Linked DNA regions of Homo sapiens: regions 1 and 3 are each linked to region 2. Evidence: fine-mapped expression QTL. A gene starts in region 2. Each other region holds a variant in brackets. All regions are shown on one strand. Distances are from middle to middle. Region 1 has its middle 66 kb from the start of B4GALT7. Region 2 holds the start of FAM193B (family with sequence similarity 193 member B). Region 3 overlaps FAM193B (family with sequence similarity 193 member B).

Region 1 (4,183 bases), 110 kb before region 2:
GGGGACACAGATAGTAAACAGCACTATAAATGTAATGTCAGGTGATAATACAGAGTGTTAGGGGAAAAAATACGGTATTTTTGTTCTTTTAATCTTTGCTGTTTGATAGCCAGATTCCATAAGATGTCATTATTTTTTTATTATGATTCATTTATTCAATAAATATTTATTGAGCATATGCTGTAACCCTGGGGACCAGAGGTGAACAAGATGATAATGGAACTACATTCTGCTGTGGAAAGATAGGCAGTAAACAAACTAACAAATAAGAGAACAGTATAATAGTAACTTTGGTGGGATTGGGAACATTTGATTGTGTTTTCAGAGAAGGCCTCTCTGAAGAGTTAATATTTGACCTGAGACTAAAATGACAACAAATTAGTTATAAGATCTAGATGAATAAGGCATTGTCAAAGGGAACAACAAAACCAAAAGTTTGGAGGCAGGAATGAGCATGACTTACTGGAAGAATGGAAAGCCAGTGAGGCTGCAGTGTAACGACTGATGGACAGAGTCAGAAGAGATGAGAAGTAGGTAGGTTAGGTTATAGGGCTTTGGAGACCACAATAAGGGATTTGGATTTTATTGTAATACAGTAAGAAATCTTTGAAGGTTTAAGCAGGACAGTGACATGATTTGATTTACCTTTTTTTTTTTTTTTTGGAGATGGAGTCTTGCTCTGTTGCATTGCTCAGGCTGTAGTGCAGTGGTGCGATCTCGGCTCACTGCAACCTCCACTTCCCAGGTTCAAGCAATTTCCCCCAACTCAGCCTCCCGAGTAGCCGGGACTACAAGCGCACCACCACGCTTGACTAATTTTTTGTATTTTAGTAGAGACGGGGTTTCACCATGTTGGCCAGGATGGTCTAGATCTCCTGACCTCATGATCCTCCCGCCTCGGCCTCCCAAAGTGCTGGGATTACAGGCGTGAGCCACTGCACCTAGCCTTGATTTACATTTTTTAGAGATGACTTTAGCTACTGTGAAAAGAAAAGATGGTAAGGTAGGGAGACCATATAATTTATCATCCAATTGGGAAACTTTTGCAAATGAAAAGGGATGCTAACTGGACCAGGATGTCAAGCAACAGGTGAAAACTGGAACTGTCCCAAACAAAGCAGAAGTGTAGTCACCCTACTGTAAGAGGGGAAGAGTGAAATTAGGGAGATCAGTTAGAAGGTTGGCTGTAGTAGTCCAGGTCAGAAATAACTGTAGCTTGGACTGGAGTGGTGGTACAGACTGGGAGAGTGGAGGGATGTAGATATTTAGTAAATAAAATCAACAGGTCCTGATAACTTGGATGTGGATAACAAGGGAAAGGAAGGAATGAAGAAGGATGCCCTGAGTTCTGGCTTGAGCAACTGAATGCATGTTGGTGTCATGCATTGAAATGAAGCAGACTTGGGAGGAACAGGGTTAGAGGAAAGATTCAAGAGTTCTGTTTTGAAGGTATAAAACTTAACGATGCCTGTGGAATAGCCAACTGGAGATGCCAAGTATAACATTTGTACTGAGTTTAGAGCTCTGAAGAAAAGTCCTGACTAGAGATACAAATTTAGTCTTGTTAGCGCATAGGTTATAGTGAAGTCATTGACCTGGATAAAATCATCTAGGTTGAGGTGACAAGAGGAAGAACATCCAGAACCTAGCCCAAGGGAACACCATAGTGCATAGCCCAAGGGAGGAAGAGCAGCTAGTGAGGTTGGAGATAAAGGAGTGTGCTCACATATAGTACAGCCAGACATCTTGCTTATGTTTATTGGAAACACATAGGGTATGTGTGCAAATTCCCTATGCTTGTCCTTTGCCCATTTTTCTGTTGCG[G/A]TATTATAATGTTTCTTTTTTTTTTTCCTTTTTTTTTTTTTTTTTTTTTTTTTTGAGAGGGAGTTTCACTCTTGTTGCCCAGGCTGGAGTGCAATGGTGCAATCTCAGCTCACTGCAACCTCCACCTACCTGGCTCAAGCGATTCTCCTGCCTCAGACTCCCAAGCAGCTGGGATTACAGGCATGTGCCACCATGCCCAGCTAATTTTGTATTTTTAGTAGACACGGGGTTTTACCATGTTGGTCAGGCTGGTCTCAAACTCCTGACCTCAAGTGATCCACCCGCCTCGGCCTCCCAAAGTGCTGGGATTACAGGCATGAGCCACCGCACCCGGCCAACATTTCTTATTCATTTGTTAAATCTACTTATATATTAAAGATTGGTATAGGTGGAACTGTATCTCCTAAAAAGCTGTGCTGAAGTTCTAACCCCCCACTACCTCAGATTGTGACCTTATTTAGAAATAGGGTCATTGGCAGATATAATCAGTGAAGATGAGGTTGTGCCGAGTAGAGTGAACCCTTAATACAACATGACTACTGTCCTTATGAGAAGAACATGTGAAGACACAGGGGAAGAACGCCATGTGACAGTGGAAGCAGAAACCGAAGTTATGCAGCTGCAAGCCAAGGAACACCGAGGACTGCTGGCGACATCAGGAGCTAAGAAAAAGGCATGAAACAGATTCTTCCCTGGAGCCTTCAAGAGAACGTGGCTCTGTAGACACCTTGATTTCAAACCTTTAGCCTCCAGGACTGTGAGGGGATAAATTTCTGTTGCTTAAATCCACCTAGTTTCTGGTAATTTTTACTAGGAAACTAATATAGCCTCCTGTCATACATGTTACAATTTTCTTTCAACTTTTGATTTTGTTTTTTTAATTACAGAAGTTTTACATTTTTATATAGTCAATTCTACCACTCCTTTTCTTTATGATTTCTTAGTTGTCATGCTTATGTCAACCTAAATAACAGACAGCGACTATCTAAAAAGAAAGTGATATTTATTCAGGAATGGCATTGCAACCGGAGTGTGTGAGCCATAATAAACTATGTGTGTATTCAGGGAGGTAAAGGAAGGCAGAAGCTTTTAAAGGAAAAATGAGGAGGATTACATAATTGTTTTGAGATAATTATCGTTATCTGCAAGGATTAATAACAAGGGTGGCTCCAGTCCAAGGTCGAGCAGGCAGTTGCTGGGCAGATGTCCTCATGGAAGTATTTTTTTCTGTAAGGTTGTGGTTTTTGCAGAGCCTTTTGTGGTACTTATCAGGCATTTGTGCATAGTAATCCTCCCTTCATGGCCTTCCCTAGCTCTATTTGTCAAGGTTTTTTTTTTTTTTTTTTTTTGAGACGAGTCTCGCTCTGTCACCCAGGCTGGAGTGCAGTGGCACGATCTCGGGTCACTGCAACCTCCACCTCCCGGATTCAAGCAATTCTCCTGCCTCAGCCTCCTGAGTAGCTGGGATTACAGGCATGTGCCACTACACCTGGCTAATTTTTTTGTATTTTTCGTAGAGACGGGGTTTCACCATATTGGCCAGGCTGGTCTCGAACTGCTGACCTTGTGATCCACCCACCTCGACCTCCCAAAGTGTTGGGATTACAGGCATGAGCCACCACGCCTGGCCAGGTGACTCCATTTTGATACTGACAACTCACATTTCCCTCATTTGATCAAGATGTTTTCCCAAAAACATTGCCAATCAGCTTGTATAATAGTTCAGGTGTGTGTGTGTGTGTGTGTGTGTGTGTGTGTGTGTGTGTGTGTGTTTGTCTTGAGATGGAGTCTCACTCTGCCACCCAGGCAAAGTGATCTTGGCTCACTGCAACCTCCACTTCCCGGGTTCAAGTGATTCTCCCACTCAGCCTCCCGAGTAGCTGGGATTACAGGCAAGTGCCACCATGCCTAGCTAATTTTTTATTTATTATTATTATTATTCTTTAAGTTCTGGGATACATGTGCAGAACGTGCAGGTTTGTTACATAGGTATACACATGCCATGGTGGCTGCTGCACTCATCAACCCATCATCTACCTTAGGTATTTCTCCTAATGCAATCCCTCCCCTAGCCCCCCACCCCCCAACAGGCCCCGGTGTGTGATGTTCCCGTCCCTGTGTCCATGTGTTCTCATTGTTCAACTTCCACTTATAAGTGAGAACATGCAGTGTTTGGTTTTCTGTTCCTGTGTTAGTTTGCTGAGAATGATGGTTTCCAGCTTCATCCATGTCCCTTCAAAGGACATGAACTTATCCTTTTTTATGGCTGCATAGTATTCCATGGTGTATATGTGCCACATTTTCTTTATGCGTCTATCATTGATGGGCATTTGGGTTGGTTCCAAGTCTTTGCTATTGT
Region 2 (4,183 bases):
AAATAATAATAATAATAATAATAATAATAATAATAATAATAATAATAATAATGTATCGAAATACATCTATGTTACCTACCAAGTCTAAAGAAGCCCCAGCCCAAGTATTGCACCTCTTCCCTAGTAGGGAGTGTGATCTACAGCAGCTTTCCCTTCACTTTGTACGAAATATCTCAACATATCCCAGACTCCTAGATGGCTTACTGCGAGGCCCCTATATATTTGTGAGATTTATTATCCATCCTCTGGCACACACATCATGCCTTACCAAATCATCCAGGATATCTGCTATTCCCTTTTCTTAAGGTCCATCAAGATGATGTCATCAGTGCCTCAGCAGATTAGCCTGATATCCATTAGAATGGAGATTTAGTAAAAAAAATCCCTGTAAACTGGCAGGGTGCAGTGGCTCCGCCTGTAATCCTAGCACTTTGGGAGGCCGAGGCAGGTGCATCACCTGAGGTCAAGAATTCGAGACCAGCCTGGGCAATACGGGGAAACCCCGTCTCTACTAAAAATACAAAAAAATTAGGGGGCGTGGTAGCATGTGCCTCTAATCCCAGCTAATCTGGAGGCTGAGGCACGAGAATCCCTTGAACCCAGGAGGCGGAGGTTGCAGTGAGCTGAAATTGCGCCACTGCACTCCAGCCTGGGAGATAGAGTGAGACTCTGTCATTAAAAAAAAAAAAAAAAAAAATCCCTGTAAACTAAGTGGCTGGGTCCAGAGTGTGACATACCCTGAAGCAAGACAGTGAGGGTTTACCGCTGCCCCTGCCAGATCAATGCAAGGGATTCCTGGTGTTTGGTACAGAAGAATAACCATTGACCAGACCTCTTGTTGCCTATTAGAGACCAACAACTGTGCTGATCTGTCCCAAGAAGGACCGCATCTGGAAGAATGCCTGCAGTTGGGGTTCTTACCAGAATAAGTAAGTTTATCATAATGCTCTGTTGTTCTTCAAGGCCGTCTCTCTTCTGTTCTGGGCAAACTGAAGAGGTAATGGTGATGTGATGGGACTCACCCTGCGTCTTTCAAATCTTTGATAGTGGCATTAATCCCTGGGTGAGATAAGGTACTATTTTTGATTTATTTTCTTGGTAGTTAAGGAGAGCTCCAGGGCCTTCCATGTAGCTCTTCCTTTCAAAATAGCCCTTGCCCCATGGGTTAGGAAGCCAGTGTCAGGATTCCGCCCCTGTTGATACCAATAGCAACTCTGCATATAACCACAATTTCAGAGTACATAGCCCAGGCATGAGACAGACTTCACTCAAAACTTTTTTTTTTTAATCTGTGCCATGTACATGTATTATACAGTATATTCACAAAAAGAGGGGGGAAATTCCATTTTTAACAATTAAATACATAATTATTAAGTTTTAAAAATTCTCCTTTGTGTACCACTCCAAAATCCTCTCCTGCACATACTATTTTTTTGGAAACACCTAGTCGTCTCATCGTTATCACACCGGTTGTAACTATGTACCTACGTGTCTACCTTCCCCATCAGACTCGGGAACAAGGAGTCGGGTTTGAGTCCCACTGTCCCAAGCACAGAACGCTGGACTCCCAGTAGACCATATGTTGCAAATAAAGACCTTCGTCCCTTTCAACTCAGGCCGTCCACGAGCCCAGGAGTTCCAACAAAATGATGTACAGCAACCTTTTCCAGGCCTTTATGTTGCCTCAATATTTCTCACCTGCAAAATGGGAATGATCCGTACCTGCCTCGCTGTGCTGTCGGAAGGAGTCAGACGATGGGTGTGAAAGTATTGTAACACTATAGAAATTAATTCACTCATCCATTTAACAGGCAATTATTAAGTGCTAGGGTGGTGCAGCGCGATTACCACCGCATTACACGCGTTCCTCCAGCAGGTTGCATCCTTCCCGTCCCGCGTAGGGGGGGAAGGGCGTCTCCCCACCAAGTTTTTCTCCCAGCGAACTCCGGGTGGTGACCTTATTCAAAATGGCGCAGGCGGCCTCGGGGGCTAGTGCGGCGGCGCGGACTCCGCGTGCCCTCTGACCTGTTGGCAGCAGGCGGAGGGGGGGAACCGGGCGCCGCCATATTGGCTGTTGTCCTGTGAGGGGAGCGGTAGCGGCGGCGGCGGCGGCGGCGGCGGCGGCGGCGGCGGCGGCGTGTGGAGCGAGGGAGCGGCGCGAGCGGCGGCATGACGCGGAGGCGGAGCAGGCCGAGCGGCGGTGCGGGCAGGCGCGAGCGGGCTCGGGCCGCGGGGCCGCAGAAGCCCCAGGCGCCCGAGCCCCCGCCGCCGCCAAGCCTGGAGGCGGGAGCGGGTGCAGGCCCTCCGGAGGCGCCGGCGGAGCCCGACCACGACGGCCCCAGGGAGGATGACGAACCCAACCTGGTGCCCGGCCCGCAGGTAGGAGCGAGCGGGGAGACTTCGGCGGCTCGGGCGCTTTCACCTTCCCCGAGCGGGAGCGGGAGTGGGGCGGGGTTGGGGATGGGCCATCCTGCCGCGGCTGGGGTAGCAGCCTTCCCCCGGGTCCGGCGCCGAAGCTTTCTCCCCCGGGGCGGGAATGGAGGCTGGACCCCTCTCCCCAAAGCCGAGGCTCGGTCCGCGCTCCTGCGACTAGGCTGAAGCTGCTCCCCTCTCCCCGCCGCCTCCGGGCGTTCCGGCCGTACACCCACACTGGGACTGGGACTGGGACTGGGCTGTGATCCCGAGGCCGCAGCTCCGCTCTCGGCCCGCCACCTCCCCCGGGCCCACCTGCTCCCTCAGCCACAGGCCATCTCGGGGCTCTGGGACTGGACGACTGCAGCCTCTTCCCTCTGCCCCCGGGAACGGCTCCACTCCGTCCCCTGCAGCGCCTGCAGCCGCGGCCCCCTCAGCAGCTGTGTCTCCTGGCGCCTCCTCGCCATACCCAGCAGAGCAGTTGGAGCAGACAGCCAGGCTGCCCGGAGGAGTTTTTGGTGGGGTTTCTGCACTGAGGTGGAAACCCAGCAGAACCTGCCCTTCTTCCCTCCCCTGCTCCGCAAGGCAGCCCACCCCGACCTTGAGATCCCAGGTTTGGAGAATCCTGCTGAGAGCGAACAGTAGGAGGATTCCCCAAAGCTTCCAGCTTGCCACCTGGAAGAAGGTCACTTTCTTTTGAGCAAAGGAGATAACGGGAGGTACCCTGCCAAAGTTCACTGAGAGGCGGGGGTGACATGGGCCACGGTTGCTCTGGGAGGGTTGTGGCACTCGGGGCTGGGTGGCTCTCCCTAAGCTTGCTCTGACAAAAGAGTTTTGAGTTGGTCTTTTGGCTGAGCCTGCCCAGGAAGGCAGGCTCCTGCAGGAGTCTTGGAGGGTCGGATGCGGCGCCGGATGAGGATGAGGCGTGGCGGAAGATGCGTTTGGCTCTGCAGACACTGCATCGGGCAGCAGGGGACTCTGGGAGGCTGGTGCAGCCAGAAGGCATGGCTCTTGACAGCCTTCTAGTAGAATCTCTGGAATTGTGCATGTGAGTGGGGTTGCCGTTTGGGGTACCTTCCCACAAAGCCTCCCCTGACCTCCCCAGTTGCGTCAGGTGCCCTCTCTGTGCCCACAGCCCTCTGTGCCTCCCTCTGGTAGCACTCCCCTTTCTGTGATGAAACATTGTGTTGATATGTCTGTTGCCTGCCCTGGACTGTGAACTCCACAGGGACACAGGCTATGCCATCTTTCTCTGATCTTCCACGCCTCGCCCAGGGCCTTGCTAACACAGAATAAAAATAACTAGGTGAATGAGAGAGAAAATGAATCGGTCCAGAACCCGTGCTTATTGTAACCCAGTTTTCATGCTGATTTCCTTTGTGTCTCAGATCACAATAAGGTTTTTAATTAATGAAAATGTCAGCACTTACTGAGTGTCAGAAGCTCCACCTTCATCCGCATCCCCATCTCCTATCCTAGGCTGACACTTCCGTAGGAGACTCCCCAGGTTGGACCCCCAACCCCTACTGGGTCTAGCTTCCAACCCCAAAGCTGCTTCCCCCACCAGCCTACTCTGGGACCCCCGTGGGAGTGCTGTTATCCAAAAAGGGAGAGTGGGAGAAGGGAGAGCTGGAAAGCTGTTGTCTTCTCTTCTTCCCATTCAGCAGACCATAGAATACTTCAGGGTCTCTGCCACATAGAGATGCCAAAAAGCTTGGATGATGGCTCAACCATTCAGTTTTTATTAAGGACACAACTTTGCCAAGAGCTC
Region 3 (4,183 bases), 32 kb after region 2:
GGCCCCCTCCCGGTATCGTCCCCGAGAACGGGCTCGTGAGGAGACTCAACACCGTGCCCAACCTATCCCGGGTGATCTGGGTCAAGACACCCAAGCCGGGCTACCCCAGCTCCGAGGAGCCAAGCTCAAAGGAAGTTCCCAGTTGCAAGCAGGAGCTGCCTGAGCCTGTGTCCTCAGGTGGGAAGCCACAGAAGGGCAAGAGGCAGGGCAGTCAGGCCAAGAAGAGCGAGGCAAGCCCAGCCCCCCGGCCCCCAGCCAGCCTAGAGGTTCCCAGTGCCAAGGGCCAGGTCGCTGGCCCCAAGCAGCCAGGCAGGGTCCTAGAGCTTCCCAAAGTAGGCAGCTGTGCTGAGGCTGGAGAGGGGAGCCGGGGGAGCCGGCCAGGACCAGGTTGGGCTGGCAGTCCCAAAACTGAGAAGGAGAAGGGCAGCTCCTGGCGAAACTGGCCAGGCGAGGCCAAGGCACGGCCTCAGGAGCAGGAGTCTGTGCAGCCCTCAGGCCCAGCAAGGCCACAGAGCTTGCCCCAGGGCAAGGGCCGCAGCCGCCGGAGCCGCAACAAGCAGGAGAAGCCAGCCTCCTCCTTGGGTGAGTGCACCAGGAACTGAGCGGCTGACCCCCTACCCCAGCCAGTCCACGGGGTGGAGGGGCAGCCTTTGTGTGTAGACAGCGCTGCCCCCAGAGCATAACCCCAAAGGCCTGGCCATGGGCACTGAGCCCTCCTGGCTGTGTCTTCCTAGACGATGTGTTCCTGCCCAAGGACATGGACGGGGTGGAGATGGATGAGACTGACCGAGAGGTGGAGTACTTTAAGAGGTAGGTGTGGGCTGCCTGCTCTCCCACTTGTGGAGGACTCCAGGTCCTGCCCACACTCAAGCCCTGTGTTGTGCCTCAAGCCTCAGAAAGGCCTGCTCCCTTGGCCCTGACCCCTTGGGGAGGCTCACCGCCCCCCCAGGCCCTCTCCCACCAGCCTGCCTGCTGAAAACCCACGGAGCCACTGGGCAGGATGGCACATCTGGGAAGGTGCAAGAGATAGGAGGAGGCATGTCAGGCCCCAAGAACCAGGGCTTTTTCCAGCTTTATTTGCTTTGTGTCTTCACTTGCACATTCTCTGCTTTGCCTGGGCTGAGGTCAATGAAGCAGTCTAGACCAGGAGTCTGGCCATGAACATGCAGCCTACTGATAAATGGCATAGAGTTGGGGAGGATAGAAGGGGTGGGGGCTGGCCAGGAGGCCTTCCCAGGAGAGGTGGTAACCAAGTTGAAACCTGAAGAGTAAGAATGAGTTGGCCAGATAAGATGAAAAGGTATTCATGCCAAGGGGGCCAGTGAGTACAAAAGATTAGGGTGAAAGAAACACGGCATACAGTCACCCTCCATATCTGCAATCAAAAATATTCAGGAAAAAAAACAAAACACAAAAAATAGCAATACATTACTAAATAATGCAAATTTTTTAAAAATTAGTATTTTTGGCCAAGCGCGGTGGCTCATGCTTCTCATCCTAGCACTTTGGGAGGCCGAGGCGGGTGGATCACCTGAGATCAGGAGTTCAAGACCAGCCTGGCCAAGTTGGTGAAACCCCGTCTCTACTAAAAATAGAAAAATAAGGCAGGTATGGTGGCACGTGCTTATAATCCCAGCTACTCGGGAGGCTGAGGCAGGAGAATCGCTGGAACCTGGGAGGTGGAGGCTGCAGTGAGCTGAGATTGGGCCACAGAACGAGACTCCGTCTCAAAAAAATACGTATTTTTACAGGTGGTGGCTCATGCCTGTAATTTCAGCACTTTGGGAGGCCAAGGCAGGCGGATCACTTGAGGTACTTGAGGTCAGGAGTTCTAGACCAGCCTGGCCAACATGGTGAAACCCTGTCTCTAATAAAAATACAAAAATTAGCCGGGCGTGGTGGCGGGCGCCTGTAATCCCAGCTACTTGGGAAGCTGAGGCAAGAGAATCGCTTGAACCTGGGAGTCAGAGGTTGCAGTAAGCCAAGATTGTGCCATTGCACTTCAGCCTGGGTAACAGAGTAAGACTCTGTCTCAAATAAATAAAAATAAAAATATAATAACTACATAGCATTTACATTGTATTAGGTATTTTAAGTAATCTAGAGATGATTTAAAGTATGTGGGAAGGCCAAGCACAGTGTCTCCCACCTGTAATCCCAGCACTTTGGAAGGCCAAGGTGGGAGGATCACTTGAGCTCAGGAGTTCAAGACCAGCCTGGGCAATATAGTGAGACCCTATCTCTTATTTAAAAAAAAAATAGTAATTTTAAAAAAAAGTATATGGGAAGAGCAGTGCAGGTTTTATGCAAATACTACACCATTTTTATATAAGGGATTTGTGCATCTGCAGAGTTTGGTATCTGGGTAACTAATCCCCAGCAGATTCAGAGGGACGACTGTACTTAAGGGAATGACGGAAGCCAGCCTAGCAGAGCTAGAGAATC[A/G]AACACCAGATGAGGAGGAACTGGAATCCCAAGGCAGTTTCACTGTCTTCATACATAGTTCCCTGGGCCCAATCCAGAAGCCCCCAAGCCAGCAAAGCTCCTATGCCTGCTAAACCCTAGCACCTGAGAGCCAAAGAGGTTTTGTAGAGAACCTGGTCTCTTAGTGATGGGGACATGGTACCTTAGGAGTCCAGTGAGCAAAAGAATGAACCTCTGATTGTGCTTCTCATGTGTCCCCCAAACCCAACAGGTTCTGTTTGGATTCTGCAAAGCAGACTCGTCAGAAAGTTGCTGTGAACTGGACCAACTTCAGCCTCAAGAAAACCACTCCTAGCACAGCTCAGTGAGGTACAGAGACCCCAAGAGTTACATCCACTGCCTCTCCCTGTGCTTGGCCACCCTCTCTGTACGCTCACCAGACCATTCTGTGCTCTGGGGCACAGGGAGTTGGACTTGGGGCATGGGATCCCTGGCTTCTGTCTGCATCTTCACAGCAATGGCAGGCTACAGCCTCCAAAGGTCAAGGCCCCATCTCCTCCCGCAGCCACTCACCTGTAGGCCTCTGTTCTATTACTCCTCCCTGGGCCCTGCTGCCCATGCTCCTGAAGGTCCCCTTCCTGGACTGGCATCTCCTAAGGCATAACCATCAGGGTCTTAACCAGCTGATTTCAAAAGTGCCCAGGTAGCCATCAGACCCATGGGGCTGCCCTCACCCCTGATGTTATCAGTCCTTGTGTCAAGTCCCACTTCCTGCCCTGGGCTCCTCAGTGTAGGCTACCAAGGTACTTCCCAGCTGAAGCAGTATAAGAAGGGGCCAGCCCTGAGTGAACATCGTGGGTCATTTAGGCATGGAGGAGTTGATGGGGGCTACCCAAAGCAGGGCAAGCTCCATGAGGATATTGGTAGCCACAGTGCCTCCTAGAGGAAGAGACCTGGGTGCCAGATGGCATTGGCATCCCCTCCCAGCCACCCACACAGGTCCTTTTGTCTGAAACAATGATGTACCAGATGATGATCTGGACTGGGAACAGACAACTGGAGAAGGCACTGGGCCTGGAACCCTATTGATGAAGAGAAGGGCAGCTAGCAGGCAGACCTTGGGCTGGGGGCTGAGTGGCTCTGCAGTTTCATATCTCAACCCTCAGCTGTGTCCCTGGGGTCAGGCCTTTTCCGGCTGGCAACCACACAGCTGTCCTGGAGACTGGAAGGCTGGGGCAGGCAGACTGAGCTCACAAACAACTCACTTCCCCCATGATGGCCCCACCTGTCTTTCTCCTCTTTCCAGTGCCAGGCCAGCTCCTCTCTGGGCCTAAGCAGCAAACTTCCTGGACCCTCAGCTCCCCAGGGGCAGCTCAGAGAGCCTGCAGCCAGGACAGCCTTCAGAGCTGGGGCTCCCTGTGACCCTTGTGCTGCCCCAGAGTCCAGACTGTCTTCTTTACACTCACTTTAGTCCTCCTCTCCTCTGAAGGGGTTGGGCTCAGTCAGCCCCCTTTGCCAAACTGAGATGCCCACAAGCCCCAGAAGTATCTTCCAGATCCAAGGTGGCCTCCTGCCTCTTCTCCACCTCCATGGGAACCAGGAGTAGCAGGAACCCCAGGCACTTCATCTGTTATCCCTACTGAGAGAAAAGAGATCGCATTTCCTCCCACAAGCCCAGTTCTGTCATTCAAGAAATCAAATGCAACTGTCTCCTTCCACTGCCTCCTCTTGACCCTTTTTCACCTGGTCTGGCCTCTTT

The links. PIP is the estimated chance that this variant, and not a neighbour inherited with it, causes the effect.
Region 1: its variant is the best candidate, but not a certain one, in a credible set for the expression of FAM193B in whole blood (TOPMed, PIP 0.77).
Region 3: its variant is the best candidate, but not a certain one, in a credible set for the expression of FAM193B in whole blood (TOPMed, PIP 0.62).

What each region holds. Positions count from the first base shown.
Region 1 is chr5:177,663,601-177,667,783 of GRCh38, reverse strand. It overlaps the pseudogene SIMC1P1. Among named protein-coding and RNA genes, the nearest start is that of B4GALT7, 66 kb to the right of the region's middle. The variant G/A (reference allele first, on the strand shown) is at 1,825.
Region 2 is chr5:177,552,445-177,556,627 of GRCh38, reverse strand. It overlaps FAM193B (family with sequence similarity 193 member B), which reads left to right and starts at 2,065. Exons shown (of 9, transcript NM_001190946.3): 1 at 2,065-2,379. The coding sequence starts at 2,170. It overlaps FAM193B-DT (FAM193B divergent transcript), which reads right to left and starts at 2,000. Exons shown (of 3, transcript XR_941274.3): 1 at 1,699-2,000. RefSeq lists enhancers at 1,807-1,956, 1,977-2,136, 1,863-2,366 and silencers at 2,247-2,456, 2,787-2,896.
Region 3 is chr5:177,520,584-177,524,766 of GRCh38, reverse strand. It overlaps FAM193B (family with sequence similarity 193 member B), which reads left to right. Exons shown (of 9, transcript NM_001190946.3): 6 at 1-582; 7 at 735-810; 8 at 2,696-2,793. The coding sequence ends at 2,792. Among named protein-coding and RNA genes, the nearest start is that of DDX41, 5.7 kb to the right of the region's middle. The variant A/G (reference allele first, on the strand shown) is at 2,446.